2 linked regions of the Homo sapiens genome follow. The protein of the gene in region 2 interacts with the protein of the main gene of each other region in a pairwise test. Each region holds a gene or a part of one and is shown on either strand. Other genes may lie near its edges.

Region 1 (7,022 bases), on a different chromosome or scaffold from region 2:
ACTGAGGAAAAAAAAGATTTCTCCTTAACCTCCTACTAAAAACTAAAATTAAGGGGACCCTATAAACAAGTCAGGCAGCCAACATGATAAGGGCAATTTTGGCAAAATATGACTGGGCTGAGTAGAGAGGTATCTCAGAGACAGCTAGCATCTTTGTTGGTCAAACCCTAGTATGAATAATTCAGTGCTCTTCATCAGATGAAAGGCCTTCAATTTCATCTCTGTCTCCCCCGATTGCCATCCAGAATGCTTTGGCCACCTGTGGAGAGAAGCATGCAACAAATTTTAGGCAACAGCTACATTTCAGCTTGTTTCATATGTCATACCTTAAACTGACTGAGACCTAAAATTCTGCACTTTGCCCTCCAGTCCTCTGGCAACACATATCAGAACCCTTGAATACCATTTGACCCATGATCGCCACATCTAGAAATTTATACCAAGGATATATTTAGAGTTGTATACAAAGATGATGTGTAAAGACATGCACAGCTTTGTTATTTATAGAAGCAAAAAATGCACATGACCTAAATGTCCAAAAGGGAACAGGATAAATTATGACACATATCAGGGAACACCATCAACCATACAAGTTTCCTGCCAATAGCATGTGTTGTGTTGGTAATAATAAAACAAAACAACTAAGAGTTTTCTGGCCCAATAGTTAGAAAGGCAAACATCCTGAGTCTCAATAAAGGTTCCACATCACTCACCATCCAGGTGAAAAATCTTGGTTTGACTGCAGCAACTATACTATTACTGTATAAATATTTAATTAGTTAGAAGTTAATATTCAATGAAAAGCTCACACTAAGACCCTTCAGAAATACACAAGTGTGATATATAATTATAATAATAGCACTGGACCTTTTATAGGTATTCAATAAATACCTGGCTGATTGTCTCACCTTTTCTGCATGCACTTTTCTTTGCTCATGAGGAAGCGTCGCAGCCTTGTCTAGGGGGAAAATATATCTTAAGAAATTTGTCTAATAGCACAGGATAACCTGGAGTATATGAATAACACTAGAAGATGGGAGACGGGTTTCAAAGACATGTTTATGATGTAGTCATTACATGTATTAGGAAGTTTTTAAGTCTTCCAAATTTTCCAGATGGGAATGATGTGAGTAAATTGGTAGGGATCTTACAGTTTCCACCTTATGTAACACATTGAAAGAAACAAGGCAAAAGCAGGAAAAGTAAAAAGAAAGAGAACGAAGATGGAAAAATTTTCCCCAGGGAATTTTTTTTTTTTACCAAGTCCCAGGAGTAGCTAAGTTTCTCAAGACAGCTGAGACCAGAACAAGGAATCCAATCCAGCAGTTAACAAAATAAAATGCTACTACGTAAAACAGACAAGCATCAACATGGGAACATATTAGACACAATGGATCTGATTACCTTTCATTTCCTTTAACTTTGAAAAGAGTCTTTCAAAATTCTCCACATCTCCTCCTCCAGTGGTAAGACTGGCTAATTCTTGAATATCCAGATCTAACATGGGATCTGAAATAGGGATTTGTCACATTATCTGTCACGTTATTTGCATATGTGCTACACTCAGAGAATCCTAAGGCAAATGCTAACCTTGATGAAGTCACCAATGATCGAAGGCCCAGTGTATACCAGCTTTACAGCTCATGGCTCACCCTGCTTGGCTGCTAGTGGGCCCTCACAAATGAAGAGTAACTATTTTATCCTCACAACATCGTCATGAGGTAAGGAGTACTATTTCCATTTTAAAGATGAGAAAACCACATCTCAGAGTTGAAGTGACTTGCCGAGGTGACAGCTAGTAAGTTGATTCAGACGCAGGTGTTTCCAACTCGGAAAGCATACTCACTCCACTAAGGTACACTGATTCACCAATAATGACTAAAGTTTATGCCATATTTTACTGTACAACAAATATTTTCACATCTATTACCGACAACCACTATAAAAGGTGATTAGAACAGATAACATTATCTGAGAATAACAGAAATGATATGAAAAAAAAACCTGTATCTAAAAATGAACTCATCTAAAATTACAGCTATTCAGAGGTAGAGCTGATTTAAATTCATATTTTCTTACTACAAATCTTTTACTGTTTCTACCTTGGCACACTGCTTCTTTATTAAAGTTTGTTTTTAATCAGAATTTTAACTCCTTCTCCACTCCAGGCCCACTATGTTTAGAATGTCTTCCCTGCCCATCCCACTTTCACAGGTCTCCTTCCTTAGAATTCTTTCTACACTTATTGTTTCCAGAACTGTCTTAGCACTTGCATATATTACCTTGTATTCTAACATTTCTCCACCACTACTTTAATAAGTACTACTACCATAAGAGAGAATTTGCTTTGGATCTGCACCACTGAATGCTTTAACTTACATGGTTCCACTGCATCTTTGCAACAGCCCTATGAGGAAAGATTTATCACCGTTATTTTACAGAAGAGGAAACTAATGCCAACAGAGGTTAATTTATTCAAGGTAAGGCCATTACTAGCGATAAAGCCATGATTTGAACCCAGCTGTACAGGACTCCAATGACTATGACCTTAACCATTACATTATAGGTCCTATCTCTATATTTTTAGACTAAGCTCCATGAAGATAGGATGATGACTTATAATTATTTGCATCTATCACAATGCCATATAGACAATTTGGTGTTAAAAACGCATCTTGGTTAATATATTTGCTTTCGTTCAATGGACATGTCATGTAGGAAGTTGGTATATAGGGCTGAAGATAAAAGTTTGTGATTTATCTGTGTATACATAGTAATTGAGCTGTTAATGTAGACAGAATCACTCCATGCCTAAATATAGATTTGGAAGAGTTTAAATGCAGCAATGAAGAATGACAATATTTAAAGGCTGGGTAAAGAAGGGTATCTACCAAAGAAAGAGAAGGAATAATCAGAGAAGTAGGAAGAAAACCAGGCGACACCGTGTTGGGTGAGGCATGGGAAGAAAATGTTTCAAAGAGGAATTGATCTGTAACACTGAATGCTGCCACGAGGTCAAGATGAGGACTGGAAAATATCTACCCGATTTAGCGGCATGGAGGTCATTGCTGGCCTTTGCACAGAGCTGTTGTAGTGGCATACCAGGGGCAAAAGACAGACATGAGTGAGGTGAGGAGCAAATGGGAGGTGAGGAATGGAAACAAGTTTAGTAAAGAGATAAGGAGGAAGATGTGGAAATGTTTGGTTTTTGTTGATTTGGTTTTGCCTTAAATCTTTTTCTTAATTTACTCTTAAAAAAAAACTTGCAAAAATAGTACACAGAGTTTCTATATGCTCTTCACCCACTTTCCCCTAGTGTTAACATCGTTTATGACCATGGTACAATTATAAAAATCAAGAAGTTAATATTGGTATAATGCCATTAACCATGCCATAGACTTCATCGGTTTTTCCACTAATATCCTTTTTCTGTTCCAAGATCCTACATGGAATTTAGTTGTCAAATCTCCTTAGTCTTCTCCAATTTGTGACAGTTCCTCAGTCTTTCACGACTTTAACACTTGTATGTCAGTTATTTTGTATAATGTCCCTTAATTGGGTTTGTCAGATTGTTTTCTTATTATTAGATTGCAGTTATGCATTTTTGGTGAGATTACCTTCTCACTGCATCCTATCAGGAGGGCTATTATGTCAATATGTCTTATTACCAGTGATGTTAACCTTCATTACATAATTAAAGTGGCTGGCATCTGATGAGTTTCTCCAGTGTAAAGTTACTATTTTCCCCTTTGTAATAAATAAACATCTTGAGAGAGATACTTTTAGACTATGCAGATATACTACTTCTCCTCAAACTTTCACCTATGCTACCAAGAACTATTACTGTGTTTTGTGCCTAATGATGGCTTTCTATTTTCCTCATTCCTTCTATATTTATTACTTGGGATTCTTCTGGAAGGAGATGCTGTCCTTTCTTTCTCATTTGTTTATTCAATTATTTATTTATATTAGTATGAACTCATGGATACTTAGCTTACTCTATGGGTTATAACCCAATACTATATTAATCTACTTTGCTGGTCAAATTGTTCCAGATTTAGCCACTGGAAGCTCTTTCAGGTTGGTCCCTATGCCCTTTCAACATGTCCCCATTCTTTTTTGAGAATTTTCTTAATTTCTGGTACCAAGAGATGCTCCAGGGTCATCCTGTATTTTTCTTGCCCAAGTCCTGGAATCAACCACTTCTCCAAGGAGCCCTAGTTCCTTTTATTGGAGAATGGTATTTAGAAAGCAAGATCTGGCCAGGCGCAGTGGCTCACGCCTGTAATCCAAGCACTTTGGGAGGTCGAGGCAGGTGGATCACCTGAGGTCGGGAGTTTGAGACCAGCCTGACCAACACGCAGAAACCCCGTCTCTACTAAAAAACAACACAAAACAAAATTAGCTGGGCGTGGTGGCACATGCCTGTAATCCCAGCCACTCAGGAGGCTGAGGCAGGAGAATCGCTTGAACCCAGGAAGCGAGATTGCGGTGAGCCGAGATCGTGCCACTGCACTCCACCCTGGGCAACAAGAGCGAAACTCCATCTCAAACAAAAACAAAAACAAAAACACAACAACACACACACACAAAAAGAAAGCAAGATCTGAGTGCTAAGTGTGTCCACTGCTATGGTGGTATTGTTGCTTCTAGGCCTCTCAGTGGACAGAACTAGGAAATATATGTGTGTATACTAATACACGCATATACACACACATCTGTATTTATTTTCTTAACTGTAAGTATATTTTTAAAGCCATGAGTTCATACTGATACATTAGATTCCAATCCAGTACCAAAGGGTACATCTTGGCCTTCCCTTTTCCTTATTTGTAACCTTTTTCCTCTGGCAGTGAGAAACCTAACTCTCACTATCTATATTTTTTATTTTCTATATGTCAGTATATGTGTGGTGTATAAAATATCTATATATAAAATTTCAGAATTGCTGAGCCATGCTCCTATAAGAAACAAATTTACTAAGTAGAGTTCAGTATCTGTGTTCAGTTATTTTTGTTTTTAGCCTTACGGTATCTAGTCCAATTACTGTTTTCTAAAGTTACTTAGGTTAGTGCTTCAAGTCCCCACCCACTTCAGTGTGATTACTAGTTTGTTTTAATGGCAGAGACTCTGGCAGGTTTAAAAGCCAATGGGAAGGATTCAATTGAGAGGCTAAGGATGAATAAACTGGAAAGAAAAAAAATTATACATAATTTTTTCTTCTTCTTCATATGTTTCTATAACCAATCACTTGAGTTTTCTACATGAATTATCTCATAAGAAAAAAGAGTTTTAAAAATTTATTACTGCACATGAGCCGTCTGTAGCATAAAGATAAAGTAGGAATATCAGTAGTTCCCCAGCGAAAGAAGATTTATAGTTATTGTCAAGTAAGCTCCTTGGTTTTCTGGCTTTTGGACAGCATACTGGATTCCAGCTTCAGCTCCAGGCCCTTCTTGCTAGATGTCCTTGGACAAGTTATTAAACTTCTCTGCAAAACTTCATTACCAAATGAGAAAGGGGATATAAAATAACTTTAAAAGCATATGGAAGGGCTTATAAATATAAAGTTGTATTATTCTTGTCACCATCGATTCTGACTTCTGTTAAATATTATGAAAAAACTACGTGATACAGAGCTAGCTGTTTCGCCACCTGGTTCGGTCTGCCTTGGCTAAGATTATCTGAATCAAGATCCTGCTAGGAGAATTAAAGAGAAAATGGTACCCACATATTTGTTATATATTTATTCTTCTTCCTTTTTCTGATAGCCACTGGCAAGGCTCACATTCATGTGTGGTATACTACCAATTTTTTTCCCTTCTCTGTGTTTAAAGTCAATTTCCCCCTCAACAATTTCTGCCCAGATACCTATTCCAAGTTGCACAAAGCTCTCTCTTGGCAGCCAAAGGAGGAACTTACCCACAATGCTATCAACCTGGGCATCTGTTGTGTTAGATGCACCACCCCGATGATCAGAGAGGGATTCAGTACTATCTGCTGCTGGCAAATGGGGTTGCTGTTGAGGAAAATACACATAAGCAACAATTTAATCGTAGTCTATTTCAGAACTAAATCCAAAAAAGCTCACACTTTCAGTCCTTGGTTGGCTTGAGAAAAGAGTAATAGGAACTGGAGGCAAAGAAAGAAGAGCAAGATCACATTAAAAAAATAAAAGGCTAAAACTTAACTAACCCAGAAGTACTTTCCCCCAAGGAAGAACTAGAAAGCGTTGATTTTGCTTTAGACTACTAAAACATGTTTTTTGTTTGTCTCATTTAAGATCCATGTTATATTCAAAATGTGAAAATGTAACACAATCGTAACACAAATAGCTCAGAGGCTGTTGAAAAAGATCCCTGGAAAGACAATGTGGCACTGTATAATTTGCTCTTGGCTCCAGCTGCTGACCAAGGTAAACCTGGAACAAAGTTCTTAAGGATGCAGGGTTGAAACTGGACTACAAGCTCATTGAGGACAGGGACCTTGCCTCAGATTTGCCAAGGTCTTTTACACAGGAAGTACTAAAAAAGCACCATGAATTTTATTTTCTATTTAAAGATCTGAAGGCAAATTAATGCCTCAGGGAAATCCTAGCATATTTTAGAAAGCACCCTAGTAAAAATAAAACCAAAGCTGTAAACATCTTGAAAGGGCTTACTGCTTTAGCAAGGGCTGTTTTAGACCTTCCTTTCATCTATTTTTAACATTCTCTGTCACCTTTTAAATGGAAAGGAAAACAATGGTGAATGTGTCAAGATTCATAATGACAAGGAGAAATTAAAGCCAAAGAGGGAAAAAAGATCCAAGAAAAACCTTTACCTCTGGGTGACAGGGATCTGCTGACCCAATGCTATGGTTTGTTCCAGTCAATGAGTTGAGAAGGCTAAAGCCTTGGTTCCTATCTGAAAAGGAAAAATACACTTAGTGAAATTTGTCATTTACATTTTAAACTGTTCAAATGGCTATGATGATGAAACAAAGGCTACTTATTTGTTACCAAAGTTCTAACTACATATATA
Region 2 (7,537 bases):
CACGAGGTCAGGAGATAGAGACCATCCTGGCTAACACGGTGAAACCCCATCTCTACTAAAAATAAAAAAAAAAAAAATTAGGCAGGCGTGGTGGTGGGCGCCTGTAGTCCCAGCTACTCGGGAGGCTGAGGCAGAAGAATGGCATGAACCCAGGAGGCAGAGCTTGCAGTGAGCCGAGATAGTGCCATTGCACTCCAACCTGGGAGACAGAGCAAGACTCCGCCTGGGGGAAAAAAAAAAAAAAAGGAATAGGCCGGGCGCAGTGGCTCACGCCTGTAATTCCCAGCACTTTGGGAGGCCAAGGCGGGTGGATCACGAGGTCGGGAGTTCAAGACCAGCCTGGCCAAGATGGTGAAACTCCGTCTCTACTAAAAATACAAAAAATTAGCCAGGTGCCTGCAATCCCAGCTACTCAGGACGCTGAGACAGAGAATTGTTTGAACCCGGGAGGCGAAGGTTGCAGTAAGCCGAGATCACACCACTGCACTCTAGCCTGGGCAACACAGCGAGACTCTATCTCAAAAAAAAAAAAAAAAAAAAAACTGGCCGGGCACAGTGGCTCACACTTGTAATCTCAACACTTTGGGGGCCCAAGGCAGGCGCATCACTTGAGGTCAGGAGTTCAAGACCAGCCTGGCCAACACGGCGAAACTCTGTCTCTACTAAAAATTCAAAACCGCCCAGGCACAGTGGCTCATGCCTGTAATCCCAGCACTTTGAGAGGCCGAGGTGGGTGGATTGCTTGAGGTCAGGAGTTTGAGAATAGCCTGGCCAAAATGGTGAAACCCCAGCTGGGCGCGGTGGCTCACACCTGTAATCCCAGCATTTTGGGAGGCCGAGGCTAGCGGATCACAAGGTCAAGAGATCAAGACCATTCTGGTCAACATGGTGAAAGTCCGTCTCTACTAAAAAAAATACAAAAATTAGCCGGGCATGGTGGTGCGCGCATCTGTAGTCCAAGCTGCTCGGGAGGCTGAGGCAGGAGAATCACTTGAACCTGGGAGGCAGAGGTTGCAGTGAGCAGAGATCGCACCACTGCACTCTAGCCTGGCAACAGAGGAAGACTCAGTCTCAAAAAAAAAAAAATGGTGAAACCCCATCTCTACCAAAAATACAAAAATTAGCCGGGCATGGTGGTGCGCTCCTGTAATCCCAGCTACTCCGGAGGCTGAGGCAGGAGAATCGCTTGAACCCAGGAGACAGAGGCTGCGGTTAACCAAGATTGCGCCACTGCACTCCAGCCTGGGTGAGAGAATGAGACTCCATCTCCAAAAAAAAAAAAGAAAAGAAAAGAAACACGTACTTGCTATTTCAGCTACATTACATGAAACACAAAGGCGGTCCACAGAAAAAGCAAAACATAAATCCTAATACAGTGCCGCCTGCCCTAAGGAGCTCAAAGTTCTTTAGATATGCTAAATAACTAATCCTCATTACACCCTTGTGCTGCCATCAGAGGGATTTTAAAGGTAAGAAAAACACCCCACAACGCAAAAACAAAAGCCAGGCACCCCATGTTGGCTGTTGGTCTCTACACTTCTAAGCAAACCCGTAGACAGACACCAAAGCTTAGGGTGGGTGAGAAGAAAGGTAAATGGGGAGTATCCTGAAGCCAAGCACAGAGATGAACACAAAACCATCACAACTCGGAGTCTGAATTTCAGGCAAAGATGAAGACTCCAGGCTCTCGACAGGGCTACAATTTGAAAAGGTGGGAAAGGGCTGGGCGCAGTGGCTCACACCTATAAATCCCAGCACTCTGGGAGGCTGATGGGGGAGGATCACTTGAGCCAAGGAGTTCAAGACCATCCTGGGCAACATAGTGAGACCCTGTCTCTAAATTTTAAATATAAATATAAAAAATTTAAAAGTGGGAAACAAAGGAGAGTAGAATCAGGATCTGACCCAAACCCCCGGCTAGAAGTGTTATTCCTAAGAACGCACCCAGCAGGAGGTCTGCCACTCGACCTGGAGTTTCGACCTGGAGTTTCCTGAGGTATCGGGGTGGGGGCGCTGAGGGAGCTACATGGGGCAGAAAGAACCTAGCATGGGAGTCAGGACTTCCCTGGCCTCAGGGACACACAGCAGCTGTGGGCACAGCACTCCTCCTAAAATCCCGGAGCACCCACCAGCCCCTCAGCCCACCCCTGGCACCCTGTGCTCCTGCCACCTTCCCAGCCTGCTGAAGCCTTGATACCCCCAACCATTCCCACACTCCAATCACCAGGTAAGGGGAAGTGCAGGCTCCAAAAGGCAACAAACGTTTAAAATCGAGAATCAACTGAACAGAAGATACAAGTTCCCCTCTGCCAACAATGTTTCAGGAAAAAGCGTGCAAAGCTGGCAGAAAGTCATGTCTGAATACAGAAGCATGGTTCCAAGCTCCCTGTGTCTCTGGGGTCATCCCCGCTCCTGAGTGCCCACGAGTCACTGGAACTCGCCTCTCCCACCCTGGTGCTGGGCATCTCACTGCCTCACACTCTTCTTGGTCCTCTTCCCAATTCAAGTCTCCAGGGCGCTATTTAAAATAGGGCTGCTTCCTACTCACATGCTATTTCTTCTATGCGTCTTGGCCAGACCCTTACAACCCTGTCCCAAGCACAGAGCTCATCTTACCACACAGCTTCAGCCCCCACTTCTACACGGGAACACCCACCTCAACCTATCCCACCCACCCGGAAATTCTCTCGTGACAAAACTGCACATACTGCTTTTCAAGACGTTTCAACCAGCTCAGCTTTCAAGCTAAAGTCAGGAAGGTTCTGAAGAAGGAACATGCTGCCAGAATCAGCAAATGTGGTTTTATAATCTAAGTCTGGGACATCATGTGGCCTGGTAAAAACTGTTCATTTCTGGGGTTTTTTGTTTGTTTGTTTTTGAGACGGAGTCTTACTTTGTCGCCCTGGCTATAGTGCAGTGGCGCAATCTTGGCTTACTGCAACCTCCGCCTCCCAAATTCAAGTGATTCTCCTGCCTCAGCCTCCCAAGTACCTGGGATTACAGACACGTGCCACCACACCTGGCTAATTTTGTATTTTTAGTAGAGACATGTTTTTCCATGTTGGTCAGGCTGGTCTCGAACTCCCGACCTCAGGTGATCCACCTGGCTCGGACTCCCGAAGTGCTGGGATTACAGGCGTGAACCGCAGCGCCCGGCGTATTTGATTTTTTTAAGAGCCAAGGAAATGCCATTTAATCCTTCACTGACAGCCTTTCCAGGAACTCTTCTACTACAAAATCTTGACACAGATTGTTACCAAAAGTAACAGTTCATTTTAAGAGGAAAGAGAAGTAATAGTAAGTATCTGGCACAAAATATGTTCACCACCAGGACACTTCAACTTGTCATAAAAGAAAGTGATCCTGACCTTCAGAGGAGCCAGACGGAAAACACTGTGAAGAGAACCAGGGTGTCCCAGAAGCAGTGACCACCAACCTTGGCAAGAAAAATTCAACCCGAGCAAGGACTTCCTTCCTTCTCTCCATAGCCACCATGACACATTTCCTAAACTGGTTTCTAAGGAACACACATTATGCAGAAGCATGCAAAAGAAGACATGCAAGGAGAGCATTCTTTTCTAAGAGTCAGCACTTTTTAGGAATGTACAGTCAAAAGGACAAAATGAGCTTTTAACTGTGAAGGTTATTTAAGAAATGCAAAAGCAGACTGACCAATTCTGATGCTGATCTTCACTCGTCTGCACGAAAATCAGTATAACTTTATGTTTAATTTTTATACTGAAGTTTAAGCAGAGTTTAAAATTTAGTGTTCAGTTTCTCCATATCTAATTTATGACTCCATAACTGGAATTGCATGAACAAATAAAATTTAACTTTAGTCCCACTGAAACACAATTCAAAGGGTATCTAATTTCAAGAAAGTTAACAGAAATGGCCAGGCACAGGGGCTCACGCCTGTAATCCCAGCACTTTGGGAGGCCGAGGCAGGTGGATCACTTGAGGCCAAGAGTTCGAGACCAGCCTGACCAACTTGGTGAAACCACGTCTCCACAAAAATTAGCTAGGCGTGGTGGCAGACACCTGTAATCCCAGCTACTCGGGAGACTGAGGCACAAGAATCACTTGAACCTGGCCGGGCGTGGTGGCTCACGAGGTCAGGAGATCGAGATCATCCTGGCTAATACAGTGAAACCCTGTCTCTACTAAAAAATACAAAAAATTAGCCGGGCGTGGTGGTGGCGGAGCCCCAGCTACTCAGGAGGCTGAGGCACAAGAATCACTTGGACCCAGGAGGCAGAGGTTGCAGTGAGCCGAGATCACACCGCTGCACTCCAGCCTGGGTGACAGAGGGAGACTCTGCCTCAAAAAAAAAAAAAAAAAAACAAGAAATGGAAGGGACCAAGTTTTATGCCAACCACAATGAGCAGAGCACTGATAATTTTTCTAATTTATCGTGAAACCTGCAGCAAAACTGTATCACTTTCTTCAAGACCATGGAAATTCATTTTTGCCATCTTGCTAATAACATCTCTCCATCTGTTTCCCCTTCATGTGAGGACCTGGGGGGGTTAAAGAAAACGCCTCCAAGCATCTGCACCACACCAGCACCACATGTAGAGAAATAAAAATGGTCATTTCCTGCCTGAAGTTGTTTTCCTGGCAAACTGACCGGTCTCAAAAGGACTTATCACTTCTTCCCTTTCCTTGCAGTCCTGATTGTTTTGCAGTCAATTCTCAGAGCCTGACAACATTTTCAGCAGTGCTGTGTCTCTCCAACAATATTCTAGTGTTGGCATGTCAACAGCAATGCATAAAGACATGCATTCACTAAGTTAGATACAACTCTCCTCTGCAGATATGTCATTTGTGTAAAAACAAACGAAAGTTCCAAAATAACTGAATAAATAGCAAATAATTATGGTCTTGTTTCCCCAATTTCAGCAGTTATTTTGTTTTCTCGGTATCTTTTGCTCAAATACAATGTCAATCAATGCACCAGCCTGAATGGACCTCGATGGGACTGTACTGAGGGGGAAAAAAGCAATCTCAAAAGATCACATATGATGTGATTCCCTTTATATGACATCCTTGAGCCCACAAAATTACAGAGATGGAGAACAGATTAGTTTCAGGAGTATGGCTATAAGGGGTAGCTTTGTGATGATGGTATAGTTCTGTATCTTGACTGAGGTAGGGAACCGGTTACACAAAGCTACAGGTGCTAAACTGCATAGAACCACACACACACACGTGCATGTCGATCTAACGAAATCTGAATATGCCTGGTGGTGTGTACCAGTGTCTGTTTCCTGGTGTTGAATATGTCCTGTAGTTATGCAAGATGTCCACATTAAGAAAGGTAGGGCACCAGGCACAGTGGCTCACGCCTGTAATCCCAGCACTTTGGGAGGCCGAGGCCGGTGGATCACGAGGTCAGGAGACCGAGACCATCCTGGCTAACACGGTGAAACCCCGTCTCTACTAAAAATACAAAAAATTAGCCGGGCGTGGTGGCGTGCACCTGTAGTCCCAGCTACTCGGGAGGCTGAGGCAGCAGAATGGTGTGAACCCGGGAGGCGGAGCTTGCAGTGAGCCGAGATCGCGCCACTGCACTCCAGCCTGGGCGACAGAGCGCAACTCCGTCTCAAAAAAAAAAAAATTCTAAAACTGGGACTAAATAAAAGGACTAGAATTTTTTTAATGCCAATTTAAAAAAAAAGAAACAGTTTATTAACTCTCACACACTGAATGCATGCTGACCAAATGCAGTGGCCGCTGGGTTGACGTCAATCAGAAAGGATGAAGTTAATTTTAGGAGACATTAAGTTAGTTCACTACCTGAGCCACAAAAGCTACAACTTTGAGGGGCAGAGCTTGACACGAGGCACCTTTTCAAATCCTGGAGCATATTCATTGCTGCCTATGCTAAGAGGAGTAATGCCCCAAGCCAGTCTGCTGGGAGTGGGTTACTTGAAGTGAAAACAGAGCATCCTAGTGTCCACATGCTCCCTGTCCGCTACCTCAGATACTTGGCACAGGGCTTTTTTTTTTTTTTTTTTTTTTTGAGACAGAGTCTCGCTCTGTCACCCAGGCTGGAGTGCAATGGCACAATCTCAGCTCACTGCAAGCTCCGCCTCCTGGGTTCAAGCGATTCTTCCGCCTCAGCCCCCGGAGTAGCTGGGACTACAGGTGCATGCCACCACGCCCAGCTAATGTTTGTATTTTTGTGGAAACAGTGTTTCCCTATGTTGGCTAGGCTGGTCTTGAACTCCTGACCTCAGGTGATCCGCCCACCTCAGCCTCCCAAAGTGCTGGGATTACAAGCGTGAGCCACCGCACCCGGCTGGCACCAGGTCTTGGAGGGGAAAAACTTTTTTTTTGAGGCAGGGTCTCAATCTGCTCCTCAGGCTGCCCAGGCTGGAGTGCAGTGGCGCAATCCGAGTTCATGGCAGCCTCAACCTCCAGGGCTCAGACAATGCTCTCACCTCAGCCCACTGAGTAACTGGGACCACAGGTGCGTGCCACCACGCCTGGCTAATTCTTTTTTCTCTTTTGAAAAGACAGGGGTCTCACTATATTGCCCAGGCTAAAGGAGGAAAACTTAAGAAACTGGTCAGAAAGACGCAAATTTGGAGCTGAAACAGGCTTTAACGATATTTCAGCTCAAAATCCGCCCCTTCAAGCGTCAGCTGAGGAAACTGAGGCTCCGTGGCTAGTGGCCTCCACTCACGCAGCTTTAATGATATTTCAGCTGAAAATCCAGCCCTTCAACTGTCCGCTGTGGAAACTGAGGCTCCATGGCCAGTGGCCTCCACTCATGCAGCTGCTAAGAGGCAGAGTCAGGGTCAAGAGCCTTGGCTGTTGGCTCAGAGTCCTCTTTCCACAGGGCCCGACTACTCCTATCATTCACTCTCATGACAGGAAAACAGCACACAAAATCAGAGCTGGCCAGGGAAAGGGGAAGCGGGGACCCCTCTGCCTGTGACATGGAGGTCAAGTTCAGATCAGCTCAAACCCTGGCTGGCTCTCCAATCCCGTCTCCAGGCACCAGCCAACATTCATTAACTCAATACGTATATACATTAATTATTTGCTGTTCCTCTAATACCTTCTTGGTCTTCTGCCTGAATTGCCCAAGAATCACCTTCCTTGTGAGGTCTTCTCTGGCATGCACCTCGCATGCCAGACGCTCGCCATGAGGAGAACAGCAGGAAAAATGTGATGAGCAAGATAGGGTGCGCACCTTGTAGAGGCCACCCTAGAGGGCAGTGGGGGAGATGGGGCCACTCAGGTGAAAAGCAGCACCACAAGCTGAAGACACTGCCCAGGAGGAGAATGGTGGGCGCTGCAGCTGATGAGAGGCCATCCAACAGCAATGAGGGAAAGAGGATTCCGAGAAAGGGGCCGTATTAAAGAGACCTGGCTCCCCCAGCTAGGACTAAGCACCCCTTCTTCTACGAGCTCCTTCAGGGGAGGGGCTGTGTTATTCAATGGGATACACTAGTGGTTCTCGACGGCGGACAACTTTGCCCTAAGGGCACATTTGTCAATGCCTGGAGACATTGTTCCTTATCAC

What was found.
Region 1: the proteins of AP2A2 (region 2) and AAGAB interact in binary tests that used the Homo sapiens proteins (3 or more experiments, as listed by UniProt).

What each region holds. Positions count from the first base shown.
Region 1 is NC_000015.10:67,202,640-67,209,661, forward strand, and holds part of AAGAB (alpha- and gamma-adaptin-binding protein p34), read right to left. Parts: intron 6,906-7,022; coding exon 6,823-6,905; intron 6,020-6,822; coding exon 5,923-6,019; intron 1,510-5,922; coding exon 1,405-1,509; intron 959-1,404; coding exon 909-958; intron 260-908; coding exon 182-259; 3' UTR 1-181. UniProt on the Homo sapiens protein: May be involved in endocytic recycling of growth factor receptors such as EGFR.
Region 2 is NC_000011.10:928,609-936,145, reverse strand, and holds part of AP2A2 (AP-2 complex subunit alpha-2), read right to left. Parts: intron 2,622-7,537; exon of another isoform or gene 2,549-2,621; intron 1-2,548. UniProt on the Homo sapiens protein: Component of the adaptor protein complex 2 (AP-2). Adaptor protein complexes function in protein transport via transport vesicles in different membrane traffic pathways.